2 separate regions of the Homo sapiens genome follow, and region 2 is linked to region 1. Evidence: fine-mapped expression QTL. A gene starts in region 1. The other region holds a variant in brackets. All regions are shown on one strand. Distances are from middle to middle. Region 1 holds the start of CYSTM1 (cysteine rich transmembrane module containing 1). Region 2 overlaps CYSTM1 (cysteine rich transmembrane module containing 1).

Evidence for each region. PIP is the estimated chance that this variant, and not a neighbour inherited with it, causes the effect.
Region 2: its variant is fine-mapped to the expression of CYSTM1 in whole blood (TOPMed, PIP above 0.99).

Annotation. Positions count from the first base shown.
Region 1 is chr5:140,168,913-140,184,379 of GRCh38, reverse strand. It overlaps CYSTM1 (cysteine rich transmembrane module containing 1), which reads right to left and starts at 9,192. Exons shown (of 3, transcript NM_032412.4): 1 at 9,095-9,192. RefSeq lists silencers at 8,805-9,094, 14,380-14,575 and an enhancer at 9,385-9,614.
Region 2 is chr5:140,219,406-140,234,872 of GRCh38, reverse strand. The region is part of intron 2 of CYSTM1 (cysteine rich transmembrane module containing 1); the gene reads right to left. Among named protein-coding and RNA genes, the nearest start is that of CYSTM1, 52 kb to the right of the region's middle. The variant G/A (reference allele first, on the strand shown) is at 4,648.

The DNA of each region.
Region 1 (15,467 bases):
TATACACATGCATATATATTAAATATAATGTTCATCAATATGAGAATGGTTAAATAAACCATGGTATTTCCAATCCATGGAACTGCTGCTATATGACGCTTCAGAAGAATAAGTTAGAACTACCTGTGCTGATATGAAAAAGCACCAACATGGTGGGAAAAAAACAAATTGCAACACAGTGCATTCTATTACCCCATTTGGGTTTAAAAATAAACTTCTATTTCTAAACCTGAATAGATCACACAGTTACACTAATGAATACAATTATTGATTAAACTGTACATTATACATACTTTTTTATACATATGTTATATTTAACAATGAAAGTTAAAACCCTTGCTAATCATCTTTAGGTAAAGTAGCCACATGGCTTTTACAAGAAAATAATCAATTTTTTAACTCATTAAGCAGGAAAGCCATGCTCCTAGATGCTTCCAACAATCCATCTAACCACATGGGAAGACAATTTGGTCCAGTTGCTACCTGGGAAAACCTAGCTTCAGGGCAGGATCCACAGCTGCAAATAGTCCTGTGGGTTCCAGGCTAACCTCACCCAAGGGCTCCTTCTCCAGCCTTCATTCATCATGTATGGTCCTCTGCAAAAGCTAGAGGACTGCCTGGATGCAGTATTCCCCTCTGCATTCAGCTTATGGAAGGGTCCCCACAGGTAAGCCTCAGCCCCTTGTCTAATGGATCCTGGCATTGTCAGCAAACCCTGATTATAATACCTTCCCCATACTGCTGGGACCCCCATATCGGGGAGGAGCACATCCAGCCTCACCCAACCACTCAGTTCAGGGACTCTGGTCAGTACCCCACCAACACTGCTATCTGAAAGCCAGTAGAGAAATGAAGGTTGGCTTCTCCTCAGAAAAATAGGGTAGGGATCTCTGAATTACATCTAGTCACTGGGACATATAGGACAGCATTATAATTGGAACTTCAAATAGTCAACCCTCAAAGTGAGAATGGAGAGAAAATGGGGCCCAGCAAGAGAGAGGCTCAAAAGAGAGGGCAGTATTGAACAGAAGGGAAAGGAAAAGGGAAGAAAGCTGTGAACACAGAAAGTGAGTTGGGGAATTGAAAGGAGCGGTTAGGGCATGGAGAGAGAGAAAAGGGAAGAACTCTGCCCCCTGCCAAGTTGAGAGGACACACTAGAAAGGGACAGGTCCATCCCTCCCAACAAGCCTGATAAGGCCACTTCCCAGGCCAGGTCCCCTGCCAGCCCAGCCCCTGAAAGACAGGCTCTGCCTGCCTCCTCCCAGAGCATTAGATTAGGCTTTGTGGGAAAGTTGAAATCTTGATGATTTAGAAAGAGGCCCCTACAGCTTAACGTGCTGGCAATTTAACTAAGCGCTCCTGGTTCCTGATGAATACCAAGCCAGCCTGGCTTTGCTCCATCATGAAAGCACGCTCTCCTGACCCTCTGAGGGAGCAGCAGCTCAGTCAGCACTGCGGGGTGGCTCTTAATGGACAACAGTGAATTTCACATCAAACCAGGAAGTACCACTCATGCCTATCATGTGCTGCACCCTAAGAGACCATACAACCCAGGGCAGCTCACCCTCCCCCTTTCTTCTGTTTTCATAGGATTCTTAAAGGAATAGGCTTTACGGACAATGAAGATTGGGGGAAAAAAATTCTAGATGATAACTTCAGTTTCTATCATTAGCAACATCCACAAACAGTTCTCTATATGTGAAAGGAACTCAAAGTAGTTTGGGTTATTGATGAGTTAAAAAAAAAAAAAGCATCCCTCCTGCCCCCCAAGAAAGATCTGAGTTTCCCAGGAGAATCTGAGTTTTCTAAGAGCACGCTGGCACAGAAAGAACAATGTAACACAGCATCAATGAAGCCACACCCCTGGCAGAGGGCCTAGAATTTAATATAGTATACAGCCTCACCACCACTCAGGCCTCTTTTTGGCAAACTTCAGATCAAAACAGAAGTGGTTTCACATTGCATTTACCTCTTGTTACCTCCTAGATTCTTCATTCTGTGGCCTTCCTAGTATCATAGAACCACACAAGTTTTAGGAAAAGATAGGATTGAAGGGGCCCTCTCTGAAGGCCTGCCTACTCCAAACCATCCTACCACCCATCTACTGCTGCCTGAAAAACTCACTATTAGTGAGTCATATCTTTGGGTAAAGGCTGTATTGCCCCAGGTGGGATATGTGGAACTTGGGGAACATGGACAAACAACTTCAATAATTTATACCTTCTATTTGTGACAGGTGATGTAGTAGTTATCAGTTTAAGGCAATGATATCGTTTCCCTTTTAAACAAATTTTAGGGTTTTAAAAAATGGGTCAACTTTAAGAAGAATGTTAAACAACAGTACAGATGACATAAAGATAAGACAAAAATCATGCAGGGGAACACAAATGAAGTGTGAAAAACACTAGGGTTTACTTTCAAGACCCTCCCTTTAAATACAACTACCCGGCCGAAGGTGGTGTCACACGCCTGTGATCCCAGCACTTTGGGAAGCTGAGGCAGGAGGATCCCTTGAGGCTAGGACTTTAAGAATGGCCTAGTCAACATAGCAAGACCTAGTCAACATAGCAAAAAATACAGACGGGGGTCCTGCTATCTTGCAGTGGCAGTGGCCCCCGTGGCTCTTGCAGGTGCAGTGGCTCATGCAGCAGGATTGCCTGAGCTCAGGAGTTTGAGACCAGCCTGGGCAACATAGTGAGACCCCCATCTCTATGAAATATAAATAAAAAATTAACCAGGCACAGTGATATGTGCCTGTAGTCCTAGCTACTCAGGAGACTGAGGTGGGAAGATCTTTTGAGCCCAGGAGTTTGAGCCTGCACTGAGCTATGATCATGCCATGCACTCCAGTCTGGCAGATTGTCCCTAAAGCAAAATAATAATCAGTAAGTAAATACAATTATCCCTCATTAGTTTCTCACACAGCCACCACCAGACATTAAAGGCCACCAAAAATTAGTTCAACAAAGTTAGCAGAGCCAGAAGGGTGCAGAAACTGCGATCAAAGATTAGATTGGCTTTAGAGAGGGTGGTGTTGGGGAGGAAAGGCTGTTAGTGGGGAAGAGGCAGAAGGGCAAAGTCTGGAGTGTCCAGGAAGCTAGTGGCAGCAGGAAAGCACTAAGTATTCGACTTAACAATAAGGGCTCACAGAATAGCCACATTCTTACAAATGTCCCCCTCTTCACACACTTTCTCCCCAACTGACTCTGCCTAAGATTCTGAAACTGAAAGCTGACCAGTAAAGTACTGCGTGCAGCATTAAACGTTTAACGTGGCAGAAGTCTAGCACCATTTCCCAGGTCTTCCTCTCCCCAAATGTCTTTGTAGTTCAACTGTTTCCCATCCCTACTTTTCTCTGAATAAGAAGCATGCCTAGATAGTTTTCAGTTACGATGTTTTCTGAGCCAATGCTCTTGAGACTGGCTAATGATTCTTTAGTACAAATAATCAGGAAACTAGTGATAGGAACCTCTGAATAAGGCATTTACTCTTCAGTGAGTAAATTCAGGTAGATCAAACCCTCCTCCCACCATGACCATCAATATTCTCCCTTAAACCATTTAATGAAAAGAGTTTAGAAAAATATAAATCATCTGTTGTTTTGGCAAAGTCATACCACAAGCTTGCTGCCCACAGAGACTGGATTCAAACCATTTGTCTCCTTTGCTTTAGATGTGAGGACCTACCCAGTTTCCAAGATCTGACTTGGAGGCCTAAATCAATAATAATATTCCACATACATCTCCTAAAAGCTATAAAGGAATCATTCCAAGCTCACTTCCTTTTGAAGACTCCTTTGTGTAGTGCCCAAAATGGTGTGAACATTTTTGGTTGTAAAGTGGGAGGGTCAGTTTATGTTCAATTCCCTTGCTTTATACTACTGCTGTTTAATTGCTGACTCCCATTTTATAGCCAAGCCAATTAGTAGCCTTGGCCAAGCGTGAGGAGCTTGGAAGCCTGAAACATGGCACTCAGCTAAGCCTACAGATAACAGAAAGCCTTTTCTGTCAGAATTTCCCTCATGAGAGAGAGCTTGACCTGGCCAACAAATGTCAGAAGTCTAAAAGATGGATGTTGTAGTTCAGTACGTAGTGTCCCTGGGCACATCAGCAAGCACTCGAATCCTACTAGATTGAGTGACAGGACTGGTGGCCTGACACAGGTGAGGGAAATTTTAAAAGATGACTATTTCACTCCTCATCCAATTTACTGAACAATCTTACTCCCTTTTGTCTCTGACCAGCTTAATAACTTACTCCTTTGAGGGCTGTGACACTTTCTGATAATACTCTTGCTGTTAAAAAAGATGCTGGGTCATAGGCTGCCAGTTCCACAGCCTTCTGTTACTGGTTTACTCCAGGCACTCCAAAAAAAGCCAAGACCAGGTTAACAGAGAATAAAAGAAAAAAGAGAGTGAGGCTGGGCGCGGTGACTCACGTCTGTAATCCCAGCACTTTGGGAGGCTGAGGCGGGTGGATCACCTGAGGTCAGGAGTTCGAGACCAGCCTGGCCAACGTGGTGAAACCCCGTCTCTACTAAAAAATACAAAAAATTAGCCAGGCATGGTAGTGCATGCCTGTAGTCCCAGCTACTCGGGAGGCTGAGGCAGGAGAATCGTTTGAACCTGGGAGGCAGAGGTTGCAGTGAGCTGAGATCGTGCCATTGCACTCCGGCCTGGGAGACAGAGCAAGACTCTGTCTCAAAAGAAAAGAAAAGAAAGAAAAAAAAGAGAGTGAACAATCTGAGCTTTACTATTTATATATGAAATATAAACAGGAATTTAGTTAGCCTCAGGCTTCCAAATTTTTATTTTTATTTTTCAGACAGAGTCTTCCTCTGTCTCCCAGGCTGGAGTGCAGTGGCACAATCTTGGCTCATTGCAACCTCCGCCTCCTGGGTTCAAGCAATTCTTGTGCCTCAGCCTCCCGACTTAGCTGGGATTACAGGCGTATGCCACCATGCTCAGCTAGTTTTTGTAATTTTAGTAGAGACAGGGTTTCGCCATGTTGGCCAGGCTGGTCTCGAACTCCTGGCCTCAAGCAATCCACCCACCTCGGCCTCCCAAAGTGCTGAGATTACAGGTGTGGGCCACCGTGCCCAGCCATTTTTTTTTTTTTTAAGCGACAAGATGTCATTCTGTCTTCCAGGCTGGAGTGCGGTGGCGTGATCATGGTTCATTGCAGCCTCAAACTCCTGGGCTCCAGCGATCCTCCCACCTCAGCCTCCTGAGTAGCTAGGATTACAGGCACATACCACATGCCCAGCTAATTTTTAAAAATTTTTTGTAGCTATGGGGTCTCCCTGTGTTGCTCAGGCTGGTCTTGAACTCCTGGGCTCAAGCGATCCTCTTGCCTCAGCCTCCCAAAGTGCTAGGATTACCGCACCGGGCCTCAGATCTTGATTACAGGCTGATTAGTAACCAAGCCCATAAAACCCCAGGAAAAAACAAAGCCAAACAAAACAAAAAACCAGCAAAAAGTCCAGGCATGGTAGCTCATGCCTGTAATCCCAGCACTTTGGGAGGCTGAGGCAGGCAGATTGCTTGAGCCTAGGAGTTTGAGGGGAGCCTGGGCAACATGTCAAAACTCCATCTCCACAAAAAACACAAAAAATTAGCTAGGTGTGGTGGTGCAGGCCTGTAGTCCCAGCTACTCAGGAGACTGAGTCGGGAGGATGGCTTGAGCCCAGGAGGTGGAGGTTGCAGTGAGCTGCGATTACACCACTGCACTCCAGCCCAGGCAACAGAGCCAGAACCTGTCTCAAAAAAATTAAAAAAACCAAATCAGCAAAAAGGTCTTAGATAGCCAGGCATGGTCGCCTGTAGTCCCAGCTACTCACAGGGTTGAGGTGGGAGGATCACTTGAACCCAGGAGTTAGAGACCAACCTGGGCAACATAGCAAGCCCTGTTTCTGAAAAAAAAAAAAAAAAAAAAAAAAAGGAAGGACTTGAATAGGGCTTTTCCAAAAACTTAGAACTTCAAACTCTTTTAAAAAACTTTTATCACATCTCAAAATATACCATTCATCCAAGAATTAAAATATTCTGCTTTGGAGGAGCTCAAATTTCATATAAGCCTCTCATTAATTCTCCTTGGTACCTCTGTGAGGAGGTACTGACCCGCATTCAAGGTCAAAGAAAGTTTCCATGCCAAGAAAGGAGTGCCCTGCTCAAGGCCTTAGTTGACAAATGTGAGCTCAAAATGCTCCAGCCCATACCCCAGCCCTGCCTTTCACCTCAGCCCAGTCCCCCTTAAGAAAGAGCATTTCTATTAAAGGCCAGCCCTGTTGTTTATTATAGTTTGTATTTAGGGAAACACACTAACATTTTTTTCCTGACAGTAAAGTCTTAAGTTCTCTACCAATGAGAAAACTTGTGGGGGTGGCTTGGGTGAATGAAAGCAGAAAATTTCCAAAAACTTTTGGCCTACTTAACTGCCCTGACAGCACATAGTTATTTTGTTTGGGAAAGGAGGGGGTGGACTGTTTCTTTCCAAAGGAACCATAATTAGTTGGCCACTTCAAATAGTATCAAAGAGATTTGGAAAACAGTTACTTTTCTAAATTTTTTAATGAGGCCAAGACATCTGATTTCCAGCGATTCTTAATATTAACAAGCTCCTGCAAAGCCCCTTAAAAATCACTATCATAATCTCTACCACTCAACAGGAACACACGGGGAAAAAACTACTCTGGCCTTTTACACACTTCGGGGCTTCTTTTACAGAGAATGACTTCACTGATCTGACTGGAAGTCCCGTTTCCCCAGGTCTCACCCTGGATTTGCACTCCTTTGAGTGCTGCACCGGTTTCTATATTTACGCACAAACCAGCTGCGGCCACCTTCCTTCGCAATTCCCAAACCTGCCTTTCACTGTACAGGATCCCTGGAGGTCCAATTCTGTTTTCTGGAGTCAAAGAAATACAAAATAATTTCACTACCTCCCAGAAAACAGACTTTGGTAAGTTTCAATATAAAATAGACAGCTCTTGAACCCAGGAGGCAAAGGTTGCAATGAGCCAAGATCTCGACACTGCACTCCAGCCTGGGCGACAGAGCAAGACTCCGCCTCAAAAATAAACAAATAAATAAAATAAAATAGACAGCTGTGTATTTTTGGTCCTAGCACCAATAAATTTCAGGGCTGGGAAAAATCATAAATTACCAAAGCATTCCTCTTCATATAACCAAAATATATTTTTCCTGTTGCTCAGGAAATTAAGACAAAATAGCCAACTAACACTTACGCAGCCTTACACGGAGAAACTCAAAGCTGGCAGGAAAGGACTAGAGATTTTTTTTTTTTTTTTTTTGAGACAGAGTCTCGCTCTGTCGCCCAGGCTGGAGTGCAGTGGCGCAGCCTCGGCTCACTGCAAGCTCCACCTCCCGGGTTCACGCCATTCTCCTGCCTCAGCCTCCCGTGTAGCTGGGATTACAGGCGCCCGCCACCACGCCCGGCTTATTTTTTATATTTTTAGTAGAGACGGGGTTTCACCGTGTTAGTCAGGATGGTCTCGATCTCCTGACCTCGTGATCCGTCCGCCTCGGCCTCCCAAAGTGCTGGGATTACAGGTGTGAGCCACCGCACCAGGCCAGGTCTAGAGATCTTTGATCTACAATCAACAAATAGTATGGGACTCCTTTCAGCGAATCCAATGCCCCACATGAATGTTTGGATGCTGGTTCTCCTTTAATAACTTCCCCCTATTAAATCTCTTACCAGTCATTTGGGGTTTGGGTTTCACCCTAGGGATACAAGGTGTTTGTAAGTCACTCTGAAACCTCTGAAGGGCAAAGTGTTGTGGACGCTATAATCTCCCTGCATACTGAGGGGGGCATAGCTCCCAACCAGTCATTAAATCCCGTCAAATGAGATACTCGAAAATGAGCTGCCCTTGGGTGGGTCCTTTCATAAAAAGGAATTTTTAAAAATCTGCTAACATGGTTACTCCACAAAGTTTACATGTATCATATTGTATAAATCTATAAATATGTACAATTATTTTTTGTTTAATTTCTAAAAATTTGCCAACAATGGCTGAAAAAGGCACCTGGCTGCCTGAGCCCCTACCCTTGTCGGTTACAAGTATTTCATAAGCAGGGTTTGAGGAATCCCATCAGAGAAGAGTGTTGTCACCTTTTTGCCGGAATGTCACACCAACTTCCTCAGTGTTCCCCTCACACCAACTTCCTCAGTGTTCCCCCTACCCCAATCTAGCCAACGTTTCAATGGCTCCCCACAGCACACAGTGCCTCTCAGGTGGGCACTCAAGGGTCCTTTCCTAATCCTCCCTAACCTAATTCTCCAAACTTTTTTTCCCCCAAAACAGCCCAGCAGACGGTCCAGTCAGTCCCCAAATCGTTTTTCCTCATGGTCTCCTTCCCCAGGGGTCCTCCCCTCCTTCTCTCCCCCCTGCAACCTCCACTGCTACCGGGAGATTAGTTCCCACCCGTCAGGACCCCGCTCAGATTTCACTTCCTCCAACAGGTCCGCTCAGATCCCAATCCACGGCTCTCAACAGCAGCCGGGATTCCTTTCCCCCGCAACGCCTTCTCTGAACACCCCGGCCTCCGAGCGCCGGCTTTGCGTTCCCTAGTTACTTCCAGTCACTAGTTACTTCCGCTCCGCTCCCACCCGCGGGACTCGCGACCTGCCCCCTGCCCCCGGCTGGCCCAGCTCGGAATAGGCAGAGCAGCGCCTCAGAAATCGCAGCCCAAGGCGAAGAAATCCAGAAGCCTCCCGCGGACGTCCCCCGGGACGGGGTGTGGCGAGCCCCGCTCCGAGCCCGCCGACTCCTCGTGAGACGAGAACCGCAGCGACGCGGAGACCCTGTGAGTCCACCGCCGAGACGCGCGGCGCGGCGACCAGGAGCCCCAGAGTAGCCGCGGGGCGCCGGGAGGGATCCAGCTGGCGGCAGCAGCTTCCCTGCCTCCCTGCCCCTCCCCAGGGGCTGCGCGAACCCCTGCCTGAGCCAGGCCAGCCCGGGTGCCCCCCAGTTCTCAGGGCGCTCCCCAGGGAGCCCGGGGACGCGCCCTGTCCGTGCCTGATCCCCGCCCTGGTCCCAGCTGGGTCGGGCCAGGTCCGCTGCACCTCACCTCTCCTCTCCACGAACCGACTGGATAACGGTCGGGTCTGAACCTGAGGAGCCCGGACCAGCCCGCAGTAGACTTGCCGCACCTGTCTCAGAGCAAGTGAGGAGCAGCCGGGCGCCTGACGTCACGGCCGCTCCCAGCGCCGCGAACCGGGAGTCACCTGATCACCCTGGCAACGCGCGCGGCGCGGGGCGAGGCGAGGCTTGCGTCACAGCACGAGCCCCGCCCCCAACTGCTCGGCCTCCAAGCGCCGCCGGAAGCGCTCTCTTGCAGTCGGCGCAGTCGGGAGGCGGGGTCGGTCTCCGACTTCCCAACGTGGGCCTCCCAGCTGCGCTGGATACTTAGGACTCCCACAGGCGTCCCCCTCAGATTGGATTGGTTCTCCGAGACTCCACCCGATACCCCAACTCCGCTAGTTCAGGCGCCTGGGAGGCAAGACCAGCGTCCATGCGGAACCCTGCTCAGTGCGTGGCATGAGGGGTCGGCTGTGGGCTGCTGCCTCCTCGTGTCTTGTTGGTCCAGACCCAACTAGGGTTGGGGGCTTACTTCCCGAGCTGTACCTGAGCGGAATGGGGCTGAGGCTGATAACTGGATTGCTCTCTGGCTACTTTTCCCCATAAACCTTGCAACAAGTAGTCCCGCCAGTACTTTAGAGTGTAATGAGACTTCATTCACATCAGGAGGGGGAAGGGGGACAGAATCTTCTGTCCTGAAGGTTTCCTTCTTCTGTTCCAACAGGAAGAGAAGTTACCGAAAAGCTCCCAGAGCAAGGCCTAGAATGAGCTTGCAAGTCCTACTTGCAAAAAATTTTTTATTTTTCATTTTAGAAATTGATTTTCTCTCCATATTCCTCCCCTTGCTTGCTATTAGGTTGGTGCAAAAGTAATTGTGGTTTTTGCATTTTTTTTTTAAATGGCAAAAACAGCAATTACTTTTGCACCACTCTAATATAAGTATATGCCTACAACTTTTGTTACTCTCTAGGCTTCCCAGATAAGACTATCAGCTTCGAAATGAAAATTTAACATCCCCTGGAGGTCTCAGTGTGAGAGTCACTGCCTATTTCACACCTTCACTATTTGCTGACTTTCATTTCAGTTTTACTCTCCTCATCCCTGCACTGCCAAGAAGGTTTCATATGTATTGAAACCTTCCCTCTCAAGAGTTTAGGATCTTAGACCAAGAAGTTAGTTTATAGTCAACTTCTTGTGAGCATCTTTTAGTGTCAGGCAATGGGCCATGGGCAGATTGAGATGTGGTTCTCGAAGATCAAACGTGTATGGGTGGTATGTCTCACATAAGTACAACTTGTACTGTTTATTATGACTTAATCATTGTATTTAAGTGGCACTTTTTAATTTTCACACTTAAAGAAACTCATATAAGTGGGAAAGAAGACAGCTGTGAAAGGTAGAGAAGAACCATGGCTCTAGACAGAGCTGTACTAATAGGAGAGAAGAGATTGAAAATGTGAGCCCAGGTCCCAAGGAGCACAGAGGCATGGTCAGAAGGTTGGTAGGAACAGGACAGAGGCAGCCAGGCCTGAGGTGTTTGGCAGATCTGAGGAGGGCAGGGATAGAGGGTGAGGGGAGGAGTGGGGCCAGAATGAGGCTTGAGGGATTCAATGGAGGGCGAAAGTGCTGGGAAGGGAGGAGGGATTGGAAAGAAAGGAGAAGTATGCAGTGGTTTGGGAAGGAGTTGCTGAAAGGGAGGGCAGGGTAAATAGAGACCCAGGAAAGGGTGCTAAGAGCATTAAGAGAAGGGAGGCTGAGAGGCTACAAAAAAGGACTGAGGGGGAGGAAGAAGCAGGTGGGAGACTCTGGGGCAGCAAACATCTCAGAACCAGTCAGTAGGTGGTGTCCTTCAGAGGCTGTTGGAGAAGAGCAGCATTGTCTGTTTGCCTCTGAAGAGTGAAGGTGATCCATGCACACCCCAAACTACCTCTGGACCATCTGAGGGTAAGAGCCACCCTTTGCAGAGCACTAATGCAGAGGGAAGAGCAGAAACAGGCACGTCCATAACTACACCCTGATAGTACTCAAGGCAGTCAGGCTTTTTGGCTGGACAGTTTTTCAGGCCTGTGGTACATGCCTCCGTGCCTCTAATCTGGGCAGGGCAAGGTGAGGATGGAGTGGAAGGCAGGGGTAATTCCCTTAGAAGGGAGGCAAGCTTCTCATGGCAGCTGGGTCATATGAAGGCTGTGCTAGGGAAGAAAAGATGCTAGGACACATTCTCAGTACGCTCCCTGACCACTCCCCTTTTACTGAGTTGGTAGGGTGAGGGCGTAACCATCGAAGGAAAAATAGAACATTCCTCACCCCCACCTCCACATCCATGCTGAGGAAAGTGTTATTATGTGGGTAAAAACTCAAGGAGTGTTGCTGACAGCATCCAAGAACAGAGATGAGGCCAGGGAATGCATCTCACATGGCTCTTTTCTAAGATTTTGACCTCAGGTCCCAGGACTAAGCAGCAGGCCAGATGTAGAAGTTGCTGGAGTTTCATCAGGTGTCTTCACAACAGCAGTGTGGGTTTCCATTCCTGGAAATAAAAGAAAAATGTCAGGGTACAAGGTCCTGGCCAAGCATATTTGCTGTGAAAGTCCATTAGTCACAGAAGTAACAATGAATTTTCAATATTTGTTCATTCGGGAGAACTGTCCAAGGACTGTGGAGGCAACATGGTGCAGTCGTTGGGAGCCTGTGTTCTGAGATTTATCCATTTTGTGAACTTGGCCAAGTTACTCACCTTCTTTGAGTCTCTGCCTTATCTGTAAAATAGAGATAATAATACCTACCTCACAAGACTATCATAAACTTTAGGTGAATTCCAGGGCAAAGAAAGAGAACCCAGATTCGTAATATTTTTTAAAGGGCCATTTTTTAAACCATTGTATTTTTATTGGACCACATTTGTTCTCTGAACAACTGGATGAAAGAATGTTTCTTGGATGCCTAATGTACACTCAAGACTGATGGATACAGAAGGAGCATGTGCCCTGGCTTGGTCAGGCATCCAATTTCTGATGGGAAGATAAGACAGTGTGAGACCTTGCCAGGCTGCTGTGAAATTGAATGCTAAACTATGTCATGTCCTTCCATGCCCGCAGCGTTCATGGAAAGAGGGGCCATGCCAGCTGCATTGGCTAAGGTGGGATACATGAAAGGAAGGGTCTGTAGCAGAGCCTTGAAAGATAGGATTGGCCAGGCACAGTGGCTCACGCCTGTAATCCCAGCACTTTGGGAGGCCAAGGTGGGTGGATCACTTGAGGTCAGGAGTTCAAGACCAGCCTAGCCAACATGGTGAAACCCCATCTCTATTAAAAGTACAAAAAGTAGCCAGGCGTCATGGCGCATGCCTGTAATCCCAGCTGCTCAGGAGGCTGAGGCAGAAGAATCGCCTGAACCTAGGAGGTGGAGGTTGCCATGAGCCAAGATTGTGCCACTGCGCTCCAGCCTGGGCAACAGAGCGAGACTCCATCACAGAGAAACAAAACAAAACAAAAAACAAAGACAAAAACAAAAAAAAGATAGGATTTGGAGAGGTGGTAGGTGAGGAGAACATTCTGGGTCAGGGCGGTGATCTGAGCAGCCGGGGCAGGGGCTCAGTAAATATTCACTGGCTAGATGAATGAATGAATGAGCAAAGATAATAATGAAATTATCAGCATAGTGTAAGATCAGCCACGCTTTGTTGAATGAATGGATGCATGATTAAACAAAAAAAGCAAAGACAATGAAATTAGGTAATGGTGGGCATAGCTGTAAGACCAGCCTAACTGAACCGTGGAAACTGGGGAGTTGTGGGAAATAAGATAGAGATGGAGCAGACTGTGGGAGAGCTTTTGAGACAGTAGAATCTTCTGGGAGGAGCATGGAGTCTGGATCCAGAGGGACAGGATTGCATTTGGACTCCATCACCACATATTGACCATGTGACTTTGAGTGAGTTACTTAATCTTTCTGTGCATTGGTTTCCTCGTCCAAAAAATATAGGAATAAGATTGATATCTGCTTTATAGTGTCACTTTGAAGATGAACTGAGCAACCTATGAAATGTAAGCATGATGCCTGGCCCATTGTAAGTGCCTTAAACTTAGTTTTTATTATTAGTTTTATTAAGGACTGAGCAGATGAGAATAGATTCAATATGAAAACTTAGGGAACCACTGAAGTTCCTTGAAGTGGGAAATGAGAATGGAATGCAGTGTTTGGGAAGAATCACTTGGCAGAAGTATTCAGGCTGGGTCAGAAGGCAATGGTGTAGCCCCAAAGGGTGAAGAAGGGCTGACCAGGGACTAGAAGCAACCCCTCCTGAAAATGAGAAAGCCTGTCCACTTGCTGGTACATGGCATGCACAGGCACTCAGTAACTCTACTGAATGAAAGTCTGCACCAATTGAACAATATAATTGTGGAGCTCCCAGGCTCAATCGCAAATACTATCAGAATTCTCCCTCAGTCAAGTATAGAGAGGTTTAAAGCACTGGAGAAGTTCACTGAGACTTGGCCTCTGGTTCATTTCAATTTCTCCCCCGAGTAGCTGGGACTACAGGTGCACACCACCGCAGCCAGCTAATTTGTGTGTGTGTGTGTGTGTGTGTGTGTGTGTGTGTGTGTGTGTGTGTGTGTGTGTTTTGTTTTGTTTTTTTTGTAGAGACAGGTTTCACCATGTTGCCCAGGCTGGTCTTGAACTCTGGGCTCAAGTGATCTACCCACCTCAGCCTCTCAAAGTGCTGGGATTACAAGCATAAGCCACTGCACCCGGCCCTTCTGGCTCTTTTTCTGATCTATGTTTTCAAATTCCAATTTGCTTGTCAGGAATTTCTCCACTGCAAGTGCTGAAGCACTATTCAAATCAGCTTAAAGAGGGAGAGATAATGTATTGGCTCATGAAGCCAAAAATCCAGGGATGAGTCTGATTTTCAGGTATAGCTGGATCCAGGCACTCAAACACTGTCACCAGGATTCTCCCCTTTCTCTTTCTCAGCTCTTTTCTTTGCATGTCTTCATTCTCAGATAATCCTTCTGATGGTATCAGAATTTCATTCTCACAGTGAAAAGTCTCAGCAGACAAAAGGCTTTCTCTTTCCTAATAATACTAAGAAAAGCTCTAGAATGGAGCTTAGTTTTTATTTTTTAAGTTTTTATTTATTTATTTATTTATTTATTTGTTTATTTATTTGAGGCAGAGTCTCGTTCTGTAACCGAGGCTGGAGTGCAGTGGCATGATATTGGCTCACTGCAACCTCTGCCTCCTGGGTTCAAGCAATTCTCCTGCCTCAGCCTCCCGAGTAGCTGGGATTACAGGTATACCCCACCACGCCCAGCTAATTTTTTTGTATTTTTATTAAAGACAGGGTTTCACCATGTTAGCCAGGCTAGACTTGAACTCCCGACCTCAAGTGATCCACCTGTCTCGGCCTCCCAAAGTGGTGGGATTACAGGCATGAGTTACCGCGCCCTGTCAGGAGCTTAGTTGGGTAACTTGCTTTTCTCCTGAATGTGTGGCCGTAGCCAGGGCATGTAACACATTGGCTGGTTCCATGTTCTCTTCTGGAGCTGGGGGTGAACACAGCCTCCCCCAAATCCCACAGTTGAAAGTGTGGAAGAATGGCTTCCCAAGGAAAATTCAAGTTTAGTTACCAGAAGTAGGAGGAATGGATGCTGAGCAAACAAAAAACACAACTGACCCCTACAGGCCACCAATACTGAAACCACAAGCTTCCTGAAAGCTCCTCCTATTGAAAGGTTCTGTAATGTAATACAGCTATGAACCTGTGAATTCATAGGCTTGAATTCACTTGGAAATCAACTTACCTTCTCTTGTATTTCCAGAAAAGTTGTATCTAATGAGAAGCAAATTCTGGCACTCAGAGGTTGAGCCATGTTGATATCATTGCATAGAACCTGCCATTGGTTTTACCTAAATGCACTCTCCTTTCTGGAAGTACTACTTCTGAGGAAAGGGCATCAGGGAGCACTTAATGCTTTAAATGTGTTTGTACAGCAACTTGCGTTCTCAAGAGGTATCACATAAATGCATGTGTTTTTAATTTTGACTTGATTCCTGAAGTAGCCTGGCCTTCTGATAGTGATCTTAGAAAATCAACCTAGAAGAAGAATACATTTTTCTCCCAGGCTGTGAGTCAAATGACTATGGCAATGAAGTTCCGTCAACTATGAAGCATCCTTCTGCTTTTTAATCTTTTCAGTAATTAAGAAAATAAATTCAACACATATAAATTAGAAATAATCAGCTTATAAGTCTATTTGCATTTATATTTTTAAAATGGACCGATGACTTAGCACATGACATAAGAAAATAAGTCAGGGAAATATTAAATCCACATATTCATTCAACACATTTACTGAGGG
Region 2 (15,467 bases), 50 kb before region 1:
ATGACGGTGTAAAGACCTCGAGGGAGGGAGGATTTTCCAATGGCAGCAAACAGTGTATGATCTTGCTCATGACCTGCTCAGAAGTGAGGCACAGGAAGACCACGGTTGTGAATGATGGTGGCTGACCTGACTCAGAGCATAACCCGGCCCACAAGTCCCTCAACATACTGGCCATCTTGTAATGGCTGTTCCTACCCAATTTAATGAATAGTATACCTCATTTACTGCCAACTTCCAAAGACACCAATGTAATCATACACTAGGGGCTTTAACTGTGGAATAATTACAACCCAGCAAATGAATGGGCAGGCTGCCTGCCATCATTAAAGGTTATGGCATGTAAGGGTGAGCAACCAATCCCACTTAAATACCCATTAGGCCCCATGATGATCTATAGATTTAATGCAATTTCAATAAAAATCCCAACAGGAGTTTTTAATAGATAAAGATAAACAAATTCTAAAATTTATGGAAAGGAAAGAGAACTAAAATGACTAAAATGAAGATTTAACATAAAGCTACAGTAGTCAAGATAACCGGTTAATGGTATTGGCAAACAGACACATAGATCAAAGGAATGGAATGAAGAAGACAATAATAGACCCACATGAACATGGCTAACTGGTTTGACACATAAGCAAAGGCAATTCATTGGAGAAAGCATTTTGAAAAATATTGGTATGGCATGCAGAACACCTCACAAAACCCCTCAGCTATTTTAAACCTCACATTTTATACAAAAACTAACCCCAAGTGGATTATAGATCTCAATGAAAAACATAAAACTGTAAAATATTTTAAAGAAAACATGGAAAAGCATCTTCATGACCTGGGGTTAGACAAAGAGTCCTTAGACTGACACCAAAAACGTGATAAAATAAAAAATTGATAAACTGGACTTAATCACAATGAAAACTTTTGCTCCATGGAAGACACGGTTAAGGGGATGAAAAGATAGGCTACAGACGCAGAGAAAATATGTGCAAATCACAGCCAACAGAGGACTTGTATCTAAAATATATAACAACTCTCAAAAGTCCACAGTAAGAAAACAACCCAATTTGAAAGTGGATAAAAGACTTGAAAAAACACTTCACCAAAGAGGATATACGGAGAGCAAATATGCACATGACTTCATCACTAACTATTAGGAAAACACAAATTAAAACCACAATGAGATGCCACTACATACAATCAGAATGGCTAAAATAAAAATTGCTGACAATATCAAGTACTGGCAAAGATGCAGAGCCACCGGAACTCTCATTCATTACTGATAGGAACGCACGATGCCAAAGCCACTTTGGAAAAGAGTAGCAGTTTCTTAAGCCTACCATATGATCCAGAAATTCCACTCCTGGGTATTCAGCTTAGAGAAATGAAAACTTAGGTTCACACAAAAACCTGAACGTCAATGTTTATAGCAGATGGATTCATAATCACTCAGAGGTAGAAACAACCCAAATGGTCCTTCAACAGGTGAATGAATAACTGGGGTACCTCTAATACAATGGAATACTTCTCAGCAATAAAGTATCCACAGATCCTCATAGAATACACCAGCAGTTAACACACTGATGATTGTGCTCGCAAGGCAGTATCCTGGAATGACATTCCAGGGCAAAACCTACCATCCCAAATCTCCTGTGGCCAAATGCACTGCAAAATCCCAAAGACCAGGGGCTTTCAAATGTATTCCTCAGGCCCCTAAGCTTTCATAAAAAGTAGGGGGTGGTTCCTCTTTGCCTCAACCACAGCAATTCTATAGTATCTATTTTCCAGACTGGAGTTGCATGTAGAGTTTCCTTTCAAAAGATGTATATTAGCAAAATCTGTAATGGTGGTCATGAAAGATCTAGACTGTTGCTACTGTTCAGAAGGACCTCCCCAGGGCATGGATGGTCATCTGTTTGGTTATCTATGTGCTGGACCCTCCAGCAGCTACCGCAGAGGACATAGTCTTCTTGAGGAACAATGTCTCCTCTGTTCAGGCTCAAAGCTGAGTGACATTAGCCTGACTCCCTTACTTGATGTCTAACCTTTTTGGAACTCAATGTTTTGTTAGCATGCTTCTGTCCAGTTTAGTGGAGGTTCCTAGCCTTCCTGCCTCAGCTAGTTCTTTGCACCTGTGAGCTTGCCTGTTCCATGCTTACACACATGTCTGCCTTTCTCCAGGCCTGAGGAGCCCTGTCTTCTAGTTCCAAGCAGTCTTGTCTTTCCTTCTGTTGATTTCCTTCACAGAACAAGAACTGGAGAAAAGTCCACCTCCTCAGTGAAAACAGTGTAGACACTTTTGCGTTCTCACTTTACCTAATCTCTCAGCAACATTTGATGTTACTAATCAATCCTCTCTTCCCAATACATCTTCACTCAGCTCTCAGGACATCCCATTCTCCTAGCTTTCTCTCTCTGACTCCTTTGCAGATCCATCCAGAATTCCTTAAAGCTCAGCCCTACACTGCCATCTTTCCTTTTCCCTCCATATTTCCATCCAAGTTGATCTTACTCACGGCCACAGTTTCAATGATCATCAACATGCCAAGGCTCTCCACATTGACATCTCTAGCCCAACCTCTCCTCCAAGCTTCAGGTTTATATACAATTGCTTACCTGACAGCTCCACTTGAATGTCTCATAGATACTTTGAAACCTCAAACTAACTCAGTTTGTTCTCTCTCTCAACCAATCATGATTCCTTTCTCTTGTTCCCAACCTCTGTAAACACCACCACCAGGCACCCAGTTCCAGTCAGAAACCCAGAAGTCATCCCTGACTCTTACCTTCTTCCTCAATGTCCATATCCAATCCATCACCAAGTCTGGTTGATTTTACTTCCCAATATCTCAAATGCATTCATTTCTCTCCATAATCACCATGTGTACCTGTGCCCCCTTCCAAACCACTCTCCACACAGAAGCCAAAGGGATTTCTTAAAAATGCAAATGTGATATCATCCCTTTGCTTAATATCCTTCAACAGCTTCCCATTACTCACAAGACAAATACCAAAATCCTTAACTTGGGCTATGAGCCTCCATCTTGTTCCTGCCTGTTTCTCAACTGCTCCTAATGTCCCCTTGCGGCCTATGACACCAATTTCCTTTTCCACTTTATCAAATGAGCCACCATCTTTCCTGCCATTGGGCCTTGGCACCTGCTGTTCCTACACTTTTGCCTACTGACATCTATACATCTTTCAGATCTTAGCTCACTTCACTGCCTTGGGGAAGCCTTCTTGGACTGTGCCAGATTGTTCCCCTTTTGTAGGTTTTCATGGCATTATGTCTCTTCTCTTCACAGGGAAGTATGATGTCAATTATTACCTGTGGGTTTATTTAATGTCTGGTTCCCTCCCTAGAGTATAAGCCCTGCAAAAGCAGGGATTGGGGGTTTGTTCTGTGTGGTCTGTCACCTGACACTCTGGAGCTACGTTTACGGAATCCATGATTGTCTCTGTAGAACCCTGGTGGTTTCCCTGGAGCATGCATAGGACAGACTGAAGAACTGCTCCCCTCACAGCTGAACTGCCCCCAAGGGAATGGTGTGACAAAGATGGGCTAAAATTTTCTAATGTGTGATCCCAATGGAATGAATAAATTATTTCCACCAAGTAATAAATGTAACATTTTAAAAAAGTAATCTATTCACAGTAACATTAAAATTATACCTGGAGAAAAATCTAATTTTAAAAACCAATAAAAATATGTGAGAACTATGTGAAGAAAATTTTAAGACTTAAAGGACATAAAAAGAAGACAAAAATAAATTGAGAGATTACTTGTTCATGGTGGGAAGACAATATTGTAAATATGTCAACTCTTTCACCAATTACTTGATAAATTACATGCTGTTCCAATCAAAGCCAAACATGGTTTTCTGTAGAAACTAACACACATTCTAAAATGTAGATGAAACAGTAAAAGGCCGAGAAAGCCAAGAAAATTACGAAAAAGAATAAGAGGTATGTGTTTATGCACGTGCTGGTGGAAGGAGGGTACACATCACACCAGATTCCTGATTCTAGCTCATATTCTAATTCGTATATGGGAACGTGGTATATGACAAATCTCATCTCAGATTAATAGGGAAAGGACTGAAACTGTGCCCCAAAGATTAAAGACACCAATCCCTAACAGAGTTTACAAGATGGCAGTCAAGAAACAACTTGCTGAAACACTGAAACGCCTCTGCTTATGAGGCAAAAGAACTGAGTGAAATCTGTTAGAACCAATATGGCCAGCTGGAGTTTGGACAGAATGAGCCTGCTGATGATGTCACAGCCTGAATTTTCACTGCATGTTTCATGCTAACCCCTCCCCTGAATTTGCACATGGGATCCAAGAGGTAGCATGAAGAGATTATTGTACATGCCCCAGGACTTTCCAAACCTCTTCTTTCCTTCCATCAACCATCTCTCATCCTGGAATCCACCCCTCTAACCTTTTCTAATAAAATTACTGCCTTAAAGCCAGGACAGGGAGACAGATTTGAGCTGGAATCCTGTCTAATTGTTAACTTATAATAAAAGCATTTCTTTTCTCAAAAACCCAGTGTCATGGAATTGGCTTCTAGCACATCAGGCAGTGAGCCCCTTTTGCTTGGTAACAGGATGATCTAATTAATACATGCAGCTGGAACTACCAAGATG[G/A]AAAAAGAAAACTAGAATCTTATCCTACACCCATGATAAAAAATAAATTCAGGGCCAGGTGCGCGGTGGCTTACGCCTGTAATCCCAGCACTTTGGGAGGCTGAGATGGATGGATCACCTGAGGTCAGGAGTTCGAGACCATACTGACCAACATGGTGAAACCCCTGTCTCTACTAAAAATACAAAAATTAGCTGGGCATGGTGGTGCATGCCTGTAGTTCCAGCTACTTGGGAGGCTGAGGCAAGAGAATCCCTTGAACCCAGGAGGCAGAGGCTGCAGTGAGCCGAGATCGTGACACTGCACTCCAGCTTGGGTGACAGAGCAATACCTCATTTCAAAAAATAAAATAAAAATGCAAAATTAGCTGGGTGTGGTGGCACATGCCTGTAATCCCAGCTACTTGGGAGGCTGAGGCAGGAGAATCGCTTGAACCAGGGAGGCGGAGGTTGCAGTGAGCCAAGATCATGCCATTGCACTCCAGCCTGGGCAACAAGAGCAAAACTAGGTCTCAAAAAAATAAATAAATACATAAATAAATAGATAAATAAATAAATCAGGTGGACTAACGACTATATCTTAAACATTTTTAAAAGAAAATATAGACTTATTTTTATGAGCTTGGAATAGAAAATGAGTTTTCAAAGACTAAACCATACAAAGCACGAGGGAAAGATGATAAACATGACTTCTAAAATTTCTCATACTAGAAAATACACCATAAAAAGATTAAGAGAGGCCAAGTATGGTGGCTCACACCTGCAATCCCAGCACTTTGGATCTCAGGTGGATCGCTTAAATTCAGGAGTTCAAGACCAGCCTGGAAAACATGGCAAAACCCTGTCTCTATTAAAAAGATACAAAAATTAGCAGGGTATGGTGGCGCGTGCCTGTAATCCCAGCTACTTGGGAGGCTGAGGCACAAGAATTGCTTGAACCCAGGAGGTAAAGGTTGCAGTGAGATGAGATCACGCCACTGCACTCCAGCCTGGGTAACAGAGCAAGACTCCATTCCAAAAAAAAAGAGAGTCAGATAGGAAGAAGATATTTGCACACCTATAAAACAGACAAATATTAGTGGATAGAATATATAGAAATTCTCTACAAATCAGTAAGACAAACCAACAGAAAAGACAGGCTAAGAATATGTATAATCAATTCACAAGATATGTACAAACTGCCCAAAACTTATATGTTTATGTTCAAGGTCACTAGTAATCAGGGAAAGCAAATTAGTGAGATACCATTTCACACCTATGAAAGGTGCTAAAATTTAAAAATCTGTGAGTTATTGTCAAAGAAAGAAGAAAATGGAAATTGTGCAACAGTAGTTGTTTATTCCTGTAACAGGAGGTAGCAGGGCTGTAGGGAAATACTCGGATCTTAGCTGCTCAGTTCAAGTTGTCCAGGAGGCAGCAGCAGCAGAGAGCAGCCCAGCAAGCAGCCAGGACTGCCTGACACCCGCTGTCCATCTTCCTTTCCCGTTCTATCACGTACACTGTTGAAGGGGGTGCAGGGCGGGCAGAGGAGAGAGAGACCCAGTCAGAGGGGACTTGGAGTGGCAGCATGCTGGTAGAACTTACCACACTCTGCAGACTGGTTCTGTCTAGATTGTTAGCTCCACAAGGGCAGGGCAGGGGCCAAGCTGATCTGGTTCACTGCGCTTTCCCTGTTTCAGTGTCTGGCACACATCAGGTACTCAGCAGCTATCAGACCACTGTTCCTGCCACCTCTCCTCCAAGCTGACCAGGAAACCCAACCCAGTACTTTATTTGTTGCTTGTCCAAAGTGATCCAATTCTCAATGCAACCCTTGCCCTGAGCCCCACCCCTGAAGCCTGCCCTGATATGGCAGGCACCGGCGGAAATCTTTACATATGATTTCATTTAATCCTCCCAACAGCTCTGTATTATTATCATCATTTTATAACTCTCATACACTGTTAGCAGGAGTGGGAATGGACAGAATCTCTTTGAAGGAGAATTTAGGGAGAAGGGGAGAGACAACAACTGCAACCCAGAAAATTTGTATCTGGAATTTATCCTGCAGAAATAATTGTCCCAGCGTTCAGGGATCTATGTAAAGTATGGTTGTTGCTGCATCAAAATAACCCCAAACTAGCCTTAATGTCTATCAGGTGAGTCCAGTTGGGTAAATTAAAGCACACCACATAATAGACTACTACTAAAAGAACCAGGTGGTTCTTCCACGTGACCAATAATTTAAGGGATGAAAGCAAGGTCTGGAGCAGTGCATCTATTTTATTTGTACAATAAGAAGGATATACACACAAATACACACACACACATTTCTGAAATATACAAGAACTTAAAGGTCAGGGTGTGGAGAGAGGTGGAGGTTTTCACTTTGCTTTTACATTTTTCTCAAATCCAGGCTCGTCTGATTCCAATGCCACACTCAAAGCTGCTCCTGGGGGTCCTCATGGCAGAAGGGTGGGGCCTAGCTAGTTTTAGAATGCCTTGGATCTCTTCAAGCGTCTATTTCAACTGCTCTAAGATAGTTCCGGGGGCTTTAGGGGCAGTGGGCACTGACCAATCTGGGCTCCTAGCCCCAGTGGCCCCATCCTCAGTCCTGGGCTGCCTCCCTAAGTCACTGTTACCTAGACACCTCACATGGTCCAACTCCCCACAACCATGCTCCTCTTATAGCCTGACCTGGCACCTCCTAACCCATAGTTCCACCTATCAAATATGCCTTAAATCCAATTCTGTCTCCTCTCAGGCCCTGCAGCCTCTGAGTTCTAGGCTAGCACCAGGACTTCTGCTGGGCAAACCTGGCAAGTAGGGGATGCTATCAAATCACAACTCTCCCTCCAAGGAGCTCAAACCAGAGAGGACCCCTATACTGCTGCAATTCCTAGGGCTGAGCCCCTATTAACCCTCTCCCCCCTGCCCATGCAAGATCCCAAACAGCTCATTAAGGCTTCTTTTGCAACCCCTGGCCCTTCACACCAGGTGGCAGTACTTCAGAATTTACCAAATCAACCCCAGCCTCTTCTCTTGGGGTTTGGGAAGGTACTCAGGAGCCCACCTGAGCCAGGTTCTGGGGAAGACGGCATCAAGGGAGCAGGCGCCATTGGTCTCTGCCTATGCACAGCCTTGAGGATTCCATGATGCTCCAGGGGCCACCTCCAGGTCCCTAACCAGCCCTCTGGCTCCCCTCACCCCAGTGAGTGTGAACATCCATCATACTCCGCTTTCTCCTCTCACTTCCTCAGCAGAGCCCCTCCATTCTTGACTCCCACACTGCTGCTCTCCACCTCTGCCAGTCAGCGACCTCAGCAGCACCAGGACCCTTGTCAGGAACTTCAGCGTCTACTCAGCTGACCCTTGGTAGTGCCCACCCCACCCCTTGGCCTTCTCTCAGCATCAGCAGTACTGTCACTGGGCTCATCCTTTCCTGTGTCCTGGAAATATCCCCTCCACATTTTTTTTTTTTTTGAGACAGAGTATCACTCTTGTTGCCCAGGCTGGAGTACAAGGGTGCGATCTCGGCTCACTGCAACCTCTGCCTCCCAGGTTCAAGTGATTATCCTGCCTCAGCCTCCCAAGTAGCTGGGATTACAGGCATGCGCCATCACATCTGGCTAATTTTTATATATATATATATATATATATATAATATTTAGTATATAATATATATTTATATTATATATTATATTATTAATATATATAAATATATTATATATTATTAATATATATTTATATATATTATATATATATAAATATATATATATTTTTTATAGAGACGGGTTTTCACCATGTTTGCCAGGCTGGTCTCGAACTCCTGACCTCAAGTGATCCGCCTACCTTGGCCTCCCAAAGTGCTGGGATTATAGATGTGAGCCACCGCGCCCAGCCCAGAATAGGAATTTTAATAAAATATCAAGCTGAATTTAAATATAGGGTCATCTACTCACTGGCCATGTAACCTTGGACAGGTAATAACCTCTCCAACCCTCAGTTTCTTCTGCTATAAAACAGGAATAATATTAGTAATCTATACCCCATCATAGGGTTGCTGGGAAAATGAAGAGATTATGCATGTAAAATGCTGGGCACAGTGCTTCGCACATTGGAAAGCATTCAGTAAATGCTCACTGATGTTATTACTATTATTCAAATGCCTATGACCTTTCAGGCAGACCCCTCCCCTGACCAAAAGCAGGCCTCTTGTAGACAGGGAGAAAGAAGAGGAGGTGTTTACCCACTCTGGGAAGAAGCCTCAGAAATAAACAGGAGGCTGGGAGTCAGAGTCACAGGCTATTCTAGGAGCAAGGGGCCTGCAAGATCAGTTAGCCCCTCGCTGTAGAGAGGAGGTAACGGAGTTCCAGTGCAAGGGATGGATATGCCCAAAGCCACTCAGAGAGAAGAGGAAGAGCAGAACAGAGCCAGATCTCTATCTCCAGTAGATTCACGGCAGGAAAATACAAGAATGCTGGGGAGGGGACTGCCAGGAACCGAAGGCCCTGCCTAGGCACACCTTCCTTCACTCCAGCTCACACACAGACATGAACAGTCCCCATCAGTTTTCCTTTGGCCTCAACTAACTACATGACATCAGAGCCAAGGTTCAAAGTCAGGGAAACCGGTCACATCTTTGGGAAGTATGACTAGGAAGCCCAGGCAGAGCTCAGGGCTGGGCAGCTTCCAAGTCAGAGGATGTGGAGTTTGTATACTGAGCCTGGGACAGAAGAGAAACATATGGGACATGGGAACAATCAGGATGGCAGCCAGAGGCTGGAGTCCAGGGGCCACAGACACCTCCTGTATCCTGACTGCCAGGCCCAGGCCCATGCCTGGTAACAACCCCTTCCCCAACTCCCTCCCACTGATTGAAGGCCTAAACAACCCAGGTACTGTGGTCACCCCAGCAGGAATCCCCACAGTGGGATTCACCTGTATCTGCCTACACCACCTGCCAGTCCTAGCGTTCCACTGATCCTGAATGGGCAGTGACACCTATGTAGGAAAACAGTTTGTTGCATGGCAAGAATGACACCATCTTTTTTATTTTTATTTTTTAGAGAGAGGGTCTTGCTCTATTACCCAGGCTGAAGTGCAGTGGCATGATCATAACTCACCTCAGCGTCAAACTTCTGGGCTCAAGCAATCCTTTAACCTCTGCTTCCCAAGTAGCTAGGACAACAGGTGCATGTCACCACACCTGGCTAATTTTTAAAATTTTTTGTAGAGACAGGGTCTTGCTATGTTGTCCATGCTGGTCTTCAACTCCTGGCCTCAAGCCATCCTCCTGCTTGGTTTCCCAAAGTACTGGGATTACAGGCATGAGCCACTGTGCCTGGTATGACACCATCTTGAAGTGAAACCACGATGACTGATGTATTCCCATAGCATAGACAACTCCTTATAAAAACACAATGCCAGGCTGGGCATGATGGCTCACACCTGTAATCCCAGTGCTTTGGGAGGCTGAGGCGGGAGGATCCCTTGAATTAACGAGTTCAAGACTGGCCTGGGCAATAAAGTGAGACTCCATCTCTACAAAAAAATTTTTAAGTAGCTGAGTGTGGTGGCTCATGCCTGTAGTCCCAGCTATTCAGGAGGCTGAAGCAGGAGGATTGCTTGAGCCCAGGAGTTTGAGGCTGCAGTGAGTCATGATCACACCACCACATTCCAGCCCAAGTGACAGAGAAAGACCCTGTCTCCAAAAATAAAAGAAAAAAAGAAACAATGCCTATTGCATAAATAACCTCTAGTGAAGATATTTGTCTAATCTTCCTAGAGTTTTGTAAGAAAGTCTGCGGCAGCTGGGCATGGTGGCTCACGTATGTAATCCCAGCACTTTGGGAGGCCGAGGCGGGCGGATCACCTGAGGTCAGGAGTTCGAGACCAGCCTGACCAACATGGAGAAACCCCATCTCTACTAAAAATACAAAATTAGCTGGGTGTGGTGGCGCATGCCTGTAATCCCAGCTACTCGAGAGGCTGAGGCAGGAGAATCGCTTGAACCCGGGAGGCAGAGGTTGCGGTGAGCCGAGATTTCGCCACTGCACTCCAGCCTGGGCAACAAGAACGAAACTCCGTCTCAAAAAAACAAACAAACAAAAAAATAAACTCTGAGGCATGACCAGCTATACATGTGTTTACCCTAAAAGCTTGCTATTTAAATAATACTTTCTGGAGAGTACGTACAGGGATCCACCCTGCCTCCACCTGAGACATTGCTTCTGTTCTTAAGTCCCTATTAAATGTTTCTTTCTGAGAAACTGGATGTGTCAGCCTCTCAGCTCCCTCAGCCTTTGGGGGTCGATCTGTATATAGCTGGCTCACCCTGGAATAACTTGTGAGCATAGACACCAGCCACCCTCCAGGAACTGGCTGCATACCCTTTGAACAACCTCTTTGATCTTCTCTCCCTGCCAGAGGAATGGCTTGCCTACCCCAGTGCAGCAAAGTGCCCCCTTGCCTCATATCAGCTCCAGAAATAGCTGCCTGATTCATGAGCAGGCCCCTCCCAGGGTGTAGGCCAGGGACCCAGCTGAAAGCTGGGTTACTGTGTGAAGAGCTCTTATTCCACACCCCACATAGATCTCTGTTCTTCTGGGAAGGATCTGATCTACTGTCTGGCAAACTCCCGCCTTTGTCCTCCAGCATCCGGAAAATAAGGTAACCATCAGGGTAATGAAATGGTAGCCGCAGTACTAAGCATGTACTGATCCTTTTTGTCAGCTCATCCCAGCTCAGACCCAGCTGACATTCCCTCCTCTTCCTGGTTTTGCCCATGACTTGGGCTGTCCCCTTCACCTTTCCAAACCTCAGTATCAACATCTGTAAAAAGCAGGGTTGACAGTGGTGTCTACAGTAAGGTCCCAAAGATGAAAATGCCTTGACAACAAAATATTGTTTGATCCTTCCCACTCCCTGCCCCAGGGGCCATGTGCCAGAGCAGGAGAAGGCACCATCAGCCCTGAGAAGAGCAGAAGAGAAAAGTAGCAGAGGATGTCCTCCTCCTCCTCCTTCTCCTTTGCAACATCTCACTGGATCCTACCCAGAACCTGGGATCTCTAGGTGGTTCCTCCAAGAGATCTTCCTGACCTACCCCATTAAGGGTCTTTCTGACTCTGAATTCCTGCCAGCACACTGTAATTGCAATCATTCAAAAACAGCCTTAGAAATATCAAGCAGTCCTTAAGAATACAGCACTGAGGCAGAGATGGGCTCAAGGTGAGTATCTAGATGAAAAAGGCAGACTACAGGCCAGGATATGTACAGTGTCCAGAAGAACAGAGTTTTGGGGGTAAGAATAGGAGACTTTTATTCTGTATGCCCGTGATGTTTTCCTTTTTACTTCTGCTATTAGAATAGAACAAAGAAAATAGGACTGTCTCAGAAGTGGCTGGCTTATTGTCAGTGTTCCCATATTCCCTAACTAGACTCTAAGTTCCTAAAGTGCAGGGTACAGGCTTTCTCCACATGCTGCCCCTACAGGGCCTGAGACACAGGGAGGGAAGGCTGGCTGGGAACTATGAGCAGCACCAACATCCTTCTAGGCAGGGGCAGATGGCTACAGTGGGCAGTCCCTGCCTCACTCACAAGAGCCACATGGCCCACAGTCTAGGTCCTTACCACGTCATGAGTTCAAAGTCTACCAGTACACTGGAACTGATCTCAGTATTTTTAGTTATGCAGTAGTTTGAGTTGGCTCATTTGTGAATCTAGAGAATTGCTAGGAAGAAATTAACACAGAGAATAATCACATGCCCATTAAGACAAGAGTTTCACAACCAGCCATCTCTACTTCCTAAGTGGCCTGGCAAATACAGATGGACACTGGCTCAAGGAAGCCAATTATCACCCAAGTGTGTCCTTAGCTGGTATGGGGAAAAACCGGTCCTGTGCCAAGGCATTTCAGAAATATACTTTCCTAGGAAGTTACACATATGTAATTCCAATAATTCTAAATGTTGTATAAGAATTGGATGAAACAAAAGCAGATTACAAAAACTGGAAGACATGGGGGATAATACCATGCTTGCACAAAGCTGCCATGAGGGGAAGACAAGTGGCTTCAACAGTCTTAGTCATCAGCAGGCTCATGGTTTCAAGTCCTAAGAGCCAGGTCTGGGGACAAGGCCAAAAGCCCAGCTCAACTAGGGTCAGGAAAGAGAAGGGTCAAAGTCATTAAGAGCCCACGCCACTAGAGCAAGCTGGCGGTAGTAAGGCGCACTGCCTAGTCCAGTGCCCACCAATAAGTGACAAGGGTGCCTCCACAATCATAAGGAAGTGGCCAGCTGAAATGTGGTCAATGAAAGGGGATATATCGGGGATATATCAAACTGGAATTATAAAATGTTGTGAAAGCCTATCAAATATCAAAATGAAGTCTGATATTATGAGTGTCCAGTGATAGTTATGCTGGAGTCTAAAATTAGATGGTGAGTAAAGCTGACTTTTGCTCAGCAGAGAACGGTGATTCATCAGAAACTGATCTTCAAAGACATCCTGCTCCTTGTGCTTTAAACCCTTACCCAAATGAATTGAAAGTAGGGACTTGAACAGATATTTGTACACCCATGTTTGCAGCAGCAGTATTTAGAAACATAGTCAAAAGGTGGAAGCAACCCAAGTGTCAATGGATAAACGAAATGTGGTATAAATATGCAATGAATATTATTCAGTCTAAAAAAGGAAGGAAATCCTGACACACGCTACAGCATGGATGAATCTTGAGGACATTGTGCTAAGTGAAATAAGCCAGTCCAGAAGGACAAATACTATATGATTCCACTTATATGAGGTACTCAGTGTAGTCAAATTCATAGACATGGAAAGTAGAATGGTGGTTGCTAGGGGCTGGAGGTAGGAGAAAATGGTGAGTTGTTGTTCAACAGGGACACAGTTTCAGTTTGGGAAGATGAAAAGAGTTTTGGAGATGAGTGGTGGTGACGGTTTCACAACAATGTGAATGTACTTAATGCCAATGAATTGTACATTAAAAATGGTTAAAATGGCAAATTTTATGAGAATTTTATCACATACATAAAAACCTGCATTATTTTTTTCTTTTCTCAAGAGACAGGGTCTTGCTGTGTCACCCAGTCTGGAGTGCAGTGGTGCAATCATAGCTCACGGTAACCTCGAACTCCTAGACTGAAGTGATCCTTCTGCTTCAGCCTCCTAAATAGCTAAGAAACTTGCATTCTTTAATCCTCTGTTTATACATGAGAATTCCAGGACACTTCAACACTTGGGGAAAAAGACACCAGAGCTGAGCTTCACAGCAGGCAAAACTCTGTACGTTGGTGGCTCAGGATGTTCTGTCCCAGCAGCAGCTTCAGTTCTCTTTGGTTTGGTAGCATGAATCAATCCTGCAGGCCCCTGGAGCCAGCCTGGACTCCAGCCAGCCAGAGACACCTCATGGTCACAAAACAGTAAGTCCACTCTGCCTGCCTGTGTGCCCACCTGCCCTCCTGCTTGAAGACTCTTCTAGACTGCTCCAACTATATCTCACATCCAGCAAATGTGCTGAAGGAGAAAGAAGCTGCTGTTGCTGACACTTAGCTCAGTCTCCTTCCCACCTCACATGCTCACTTTGCATTTTCCTGACACAGCCAACCCTGCAGAGGAGTCCAGAAACAAGAGACATCATCCCTGACTCAGGCAGCTCACAGACCACTTGAAAAGAAGACAAAGACCCATCTCAGGAAGCTCACAGCCACATGCCAAACTGGGCAAGACCAATTATAAACACAATTGGAACAAAATCATGACAGATCCTTTCAATGAGTTAAGGTGAGAGGAATGTTAATCTTATTACCGCCCTCTCCTCATTTCTCTCTTCTTGCACTGCTAGAAGAAAATTCAATAAACGATGGCTAGTGAGTGGCTCACCAAGAAATGGGCATCATCTTAGATGGGCCCTGGCTGCCACAGCCAGCCCTAATAGCCCTGGCTTCTGACTGATAGGGCCACCATGGCCTGACAGTCCCTTGCCCTCAGGATGGAACCGTGGTTAGGGTGATTAATGCATGAACTGTTATTTCATACCCTGCTGAGCAGCAAGAATGATGCTTGAAACCAGGGAAGCATAGAAATAAAGCAAGGAGAGAAAAGGTAAGAGTGAAACAGAGATAGGAAATGACTTAGAAACCAAAAACCCCCAATGTCAGTGGCCCTTGAATATAAGACAACTACTGCCATGATTTTAGAAGGCTAAACAGAAATCAGGGAAATGATTTCCTCCTGGTTTTCAGGCACTGGGTTACAGAAAAAAAAAAGAGAGAAGTTACTTTGAGTGGAGCTGGCTCTTTGGAACTTGCCCAAATGGGCAGAGATCACCAAGGAGGTAGCTGTTGGGTTTTTCCAATTAGTGTCCAGGCACAGGCAGGCACAGACTACTCTGTTATCGTCAATGTTAGCCTGATTCACATTGAGTGCTGGCCCAGGAGTCTCATTCAAATAGTACTTGCTGCATTTTCTAAGAAGGTAAACACTGCCATATCATTTTTAATGAACATAAAACGTGTTTTATCTTAGGTATACAGACCATAACTGGCTTCAAAAGGTACCAGATTCCTGTGTTACTGATTAACAGCTCCAGGAGATATATTTATGCAAAGCACCGCAGGTTGTTTTCTTTTTCTACTGCCAGGCTTAATTTTATGACAGTAAAAACAGTAGTGTTTTCTCCTGAACGCACCTCAGTTTAGAGGCTGGTACACAGTGAGTTCCAAGGTCAGGGATGGGACAGGATGACCATTCTCAATGAATGTGGTGAGAAGGTGATTCGGGGGCAACCCTCACTTGTAAGGACTGTCTCCCACCCCTCCCCTCTACTA